Linked DNA regions of Homo sapiens: region 2 is linked to region 1. Evidence: fine-mapped expression QTL. Tissue or cell type: whole blood. Region 1 holds a variant in brackets; the other region holds the start of a gene. All regions are shown on one strand. Distances are from middle to middle.

Region 1 (2,500 bases):
CTGAGCTTGGAAGTTCGAGACCAGCCTGACTACCATGGAGGAACCCATCTCTACTAAAAATACAAAAAAAGCAAAAAGCCTGGCATGGTGTTGCATCTCTGTAATCCCAGCTATTTGGGAGGCTAAGGTAGGAGAATTGCTTGAAACCCGGGAGGCGGAGGTTGTGGTGAGCCGAGATCGCGCCATCGCACTCCAGCCTGGGCAACAAGAGCGAAACTCCATTTCAAAAAAGGAAAGAAATTCCTGTACATTTGCTGCTTTTTTTTTTTTTTTTTTTGAGACGGCATCTTGCTCTGTTTCCCAGGCTTGGCTCACTGTGACCTCCGTCTCCTGGGTTCAAGCAATTTTCCTGCCCCAGCCTCCCGAGTAGATGGGACTACAGGCATGTGCCACCATGTCCGGCTGATTTTTGTATTTTTTTTAATTAGAGATGGGGTTTCTCCATGTTGGTCAGGCTGGTCTTGAACTCCTGACCTTACGTGATCCCCCCCCTTCAGCCTCCCAAAGCGTTGGGATTACAGGTGTGAGCCACTGCGTCCAGCCTGCTTTTGTTTTTTTGTAGAAGCTAAAGCCTTATCTTTAGAAGATGTTGTGGTTTTCAGCCAGGTGCAGTGGCTCATGCATATAATCCCAGCACTTGTGGGAGGCTGAGGCAAGTGGGTCACGAGGTCAGGAGACCAGCCTGACCATAGTGGTGAAACCCTGTCTCTACTAAAAATACAAAAATTAGCCAGGTGTGCTGGCCCGCACCTGTAATCCCATTACTCAGAAGGCTGAGGCAGGAGAATCCCCTGAACCTGGGAGGCGGAGGTTGCAGTGAGCCAAGATCGTGCCACTGCACTCCAGCCTGGGCAACAGACCAAGACTCCGTCTCTCAAAAAAAAAAAAAAAAAAAAAAAAGTGTAGTGGCTTTTTTTTTTGACAAAGGGTCTCCCTCTGTTGCCCAGGCTGGAGCAGAGAGGCATGATCGTGGCTCACTGCAGCCTTGAACTTCCAGGCTTAAGAGATCCTCCCATCTCAGCCTCCTGAGTAGCTGGGACCACAGGTGCATGCCACTATCCCTGGCTAACTTTTTTTGTATTTTTTTTGTAAAGACAAGAGTTTCGCCATGAAACTCCTGAACGCAAGTGATTGGCCTGCCTCAGCCTACAGGCATGAGCCACGGT[C/G]CCCCACCATAGTGTAGTGGTTCATGAACATCAGATCTGTGCTGTCCAGGGTCATATTTTTTACAGTATTAGTGCAAATGTTAACCAGTTTTTTTTTTTTTTTTTCCACCTTTTCCCAAGGCAAAAACACCTTAGGAATTGGCCAGAATTCTTGTCGGTATAGGAGGGTGGTAATCATGGCAGGATGACTTTAAGCATATTTGCTGCCAGAAACAGAATGTATTTCTACCTTTATCTATTTCTAGCTGTCTAAATTTATTTTTGTTTTGGCTCTGCTTTGTCTTTGGAAGTAATATTCTGAGGACAGAAATAATGAAGAGCTAATACTTGGACCTAAGAGTATTATGTCTCTTGGACCTAAAAGACAGTTCTGAGTTGGCTCAGAACTGGCTGTCACTCACCATGGGTGGTCAGACTGAAAAATGGGTCAAGAGTTGAGTTTTTTGATCAAAAGTGTATGAGTAAAGGGTGTAGGATGAAATTGGGCATGGCGGTATACACCTGTAATCCCAGGTTACAGGGAGCACAGAGATACAGAGGCTGAGATTCGAAAATGGCTTAAACCAAGGAGTTTGAGACTAGCCTGAGCAACATAGCGAGACCCTCGGTTTTTTTTTTTTTTTTTAAAGGGCCAGGTTCGGTGGCTTATACCTGTAATCCCAGCACTTTGGGAGGCCAAGGTGGGTGGATCACAAGGTCAAGAGATTGAGACCATCCTGGCCAACATGGTGAAACCCCGTCTCTACTAAAAATACAAAAATTGGCTGGGCATGGTGGCATGCGCCTGTAGTCCTGCTGAGGCAGGTGAATTGCTCAAATCCAGGAGGCTGAGGTTGCACAGTGAGCCAAGATCAGGCCACTGCACTCCAGCCTGGCCACAGTCGTAGGATTTGGGGTGGGGGGGTGGGATTCTTAGACCTAGCCATGCAACTCTAATTCGGTGTGCCTTGTTTTTCTTTCTCCCTTAAGTTGATTGGCTGCATAATCGGGCGTCAAGGCGCCAAAATCAATGAGATCCGTCAGATGTCTGGGGCGCAGATCAAAATTGCGAACCCAGTGGAAGGATCTACTGATAGGCAGGTTACCATCACTGGATCTGCTGCCAGCATTAGCCTGGCTCAATATCTAATCAATGTCAGGTAAGATTGCTCTACCTTTTGTCTTATTTATGCCAACACAGTAATGTGTGTGTTGGGGAGAGCTGCAGTGTATTAAATATGGGATTACATGGGCGATGGGTAAAGATGGCCAAAAGGTTTTTTTTTTTTTTTGCTAGCTCTACTTTCTTAGAGTGTAGCAGAAAAAGTAAACTGCAGTAAGTTTTCAAGGGGTTG
Region 2 (2,628 bases), 29 kb before region 1:
GATGGAGTCTCGCTCTGTTGCCCAGGCTGGAGTGCTATGGCGTGATCTCGGTTCACTGCAACCTCCCGGGTTCAAGCGATTCTCCTGCCTCAGCCTCTCAAGTGGCTGGGATTACAGGCACATGTCACCACGCCCGGCTAATTTTTGTATTTTTAGTAGAAACGGGGTTTTACCATATTGGCCAGGCTGGTCTCGAACTCCTGACCTTGTGATCCGCCTGCCTCGGCCTCCCAAAGTGCTGGGATTACAGGCGTGAGCCACTGCGCCCGGCCACTTGTATTTTTTTTTTTTTTTTAAAGGCTGGGTACGGTGGCTCACGCCTATAATCCCAGCACTTTGGGAGGCCGAGGCGGGCAGATCACGAAGTCAAGAGAGCGAGACCATCCTGGCCAACATGGTGAAATCCCATCTCTACTAAAAAATAGAAAAATTAGCCGCGTCTGTAGTCCCAGCTACTTCGGAGGCTGAGGCAGGATTATCGCTTGAACCCGGGAAGCGGAGGTTGCAGTGAGCCGAGGTCGCACCACTGCACTCCAGCCTCGTGACAGAGCGAGACTCCGTCTCAAAAAAAAAAAAAAAAAAAAAAAGGGAGGCCATTGTAGGGAGGCCATTGTAGCAATTCAGGGGAGAGATGAATCCAGGCGACAGATGATGGGAGGTTTGGAGCAGGGAAGACAGAGAGAAGTGGAGAGATTCCAGATATATTTGAGAGACAAAACTGATAATTTGGGGTAAGGGAGGTGAAGGAGGCAGAGGGATCACGGACGCCCTCCTTGGTTTCTGGTTTAGGCTACTTGACAGATGGCGGAGCTATGCAATTGAGAGAGGGAATCCTGGGAGAGATTATGAAATCTCTGTATCTTCCGCAAGAATGTTTGTTTGCTTCCCTTGCGAGTGTAAGACGGAGCCGGGAACATTGAGGCTTGGGGCTGGGACTCAGCAGCTCTTCTGCCCTTGCCGAGAACTCTGTCTATATCTGTATTACAACACTTACCATAGTGTATTCATTTTACAAGGTATTGCACCCAGTGAACCATGAGGTAAGAGAGCAAGGGAAGAGTTTCTTCTCGGTGTCTCTAGGACTTTGCCCAGCAGCTGGCCCCGCCCCCTCCAGCGCTCTCCGCCTAGCCCCGCCCCCAGGAGATTTCCGGCTTCTCGGTACTGGCCTAGCCGTAAAGGGCTCCGCTCCGCCCCTAGAGCAACCGTTTCCTCCTCAGTCGGACCAGAGTGATTGATTAGTTTGTTGTCTAATCATCAGTCGAGCGGCCACATAATTACCAATTAGGCAGTAGCAGAGGCGGGTGCCGAAGCACGGGGTCTGGGTGACTAGGAAGAGCCGAGACTGCGAAGGAGAACGCAGCAAGCCCAGGCGGCGGTGGAAAGGTGATGGGGTATCTGGATTCCATAGGTTTTTCCTTTTCCCCTTGCTAGGTCAAGAGTCTCTTCGCAGCTTGGGGCTAGGATCTTCATTTGCCTTTTTTCTTTTTTGGAGGAAGGGGGCTGTGTCCACATATTTAAGTATTTGAGGTTCTTGGGCAACTTCCTTCTTACTTCGCCTCGAGGCGTATCCTTTTTTTAGCCTGAGGTGGGGTCCTCCCCAGGGAGAGAGAAAGTTGTTTGAGATCCTTTCTTACTCTGTGCGTGGTTAAAGGCCTCCGTACTCAGTTCCAGGGAAAGGGAGATGAGTGATGGTGGGGCCGAGACTCGCGGGTACTGCCTACTTCCGAAGAGTTAGACGCTTCCACCTGGGTGGAGGGGCCCTGGGAACTAGATTCCTGTGTTAGGAACCAAGTAGGTATTGAGGGCGAAGAAACAAGTGGAAAGAGACATTTCTTTTCTTTTCTTTTCTTTTTGAGACGGTGTCTTGCTCCGTCGCCCAGGCTAGAGTGCAGTGGCGCGGTCTCGGCTCACTGCAACCTCTGCCTCCCGGGTTCAAGCAATTTTCCTGACTCAGCCTCCCGAATAACTGGGATTACAGGTGCCCGCCACCGCGCCCGGCTAATTTTTAGATTTTTAGTAGAGACGGGGTTTCACGATGTTGGCCAGGCTGGTCTCGAACTCTTGACCTCGTGATCCACCCGCCTCGGCCTCCCAAAGTGCTGGGATTACAGGCGTGAGCCACCGCGCCCAGCCAGAAAAGAGACATTTCTTATGTGGAAGTTGTGGTAGTTCTCCAGGTAGGAGAGCCTACTGTGGGGTGGAAGACGTTAGGGCTGGGCTCCGGTGCTAAGTCCACTTCCTACCTCTAGACCGTCATCTTTTTTGCCTCATTTCTTTCTCCTCAGGCTGGAGGACACACCTAAACATGTGGAATCCCAATGCCGGTAGGTGTTTGGGGGTTCTGTTCCACCCCTAACCCTTTTTCTGATGGGCTCTATAACAGGAAGTTTCTGTATCAGCTCCCCTACCCCCGACCTGCTGTACCCGCAAAAGCAAAGTCCTTAGTCTAGAGCTGACCAGTGCTTTTTAATTTAATTTAATTTATTTATTTTTTGAGATGGAGTCTCTGTTGCCCAGGCTCACTGCAACCTCCGCCTCCTGGGTTCAAGCGATTCTCCTGTTTCAGCCTCTGGAGTAGCTGAGATTACAGACGCATGCTATCACGCCCGGCTACTTTTTGTATTTTTA

Evidence for each region. PIP is the estimated chance that this variant, and not a neighbour inherited with it, causes the effect.
Region 2: PRR13 starts here. The variant in region 1 is fine-mapped to the expression of PRR13 in whole blood (TOPMed, PIP above 0.99).

What each region holds. Positions count from the first base shown.
Region 1 is chr12:53,469,503-53,472,002 of GRCh38, forward strand. It overlaps PCBP2 (poly(rC) binding protein 2), which reads left to right. Exons shown (of 15, transcript NM_031989.5): 14 at 2,136-2,305. Among named protein-coding and RNA genes, the nearest start is that of PCBP2-OT1, 6.3 kb to the left of the region's middle. The variant C/G (reference allele first, on the strand shown) is at 1,167.
Region 2 is chr12:53,440,410-53,443,037 of GRCh38, forward strand. It overlaps PRR13 (proline rich 13), which reads left to right and starts at 1,325. Exons shown (of 4, transcript NM_018457.4): 1 at 1,325-1,383; 2 at 2,286-2,324. The coding sequence starts at 2,306. RefSeq lists enhancers at 297-1,062, 793-882 and a silencer at 1,173-1,322.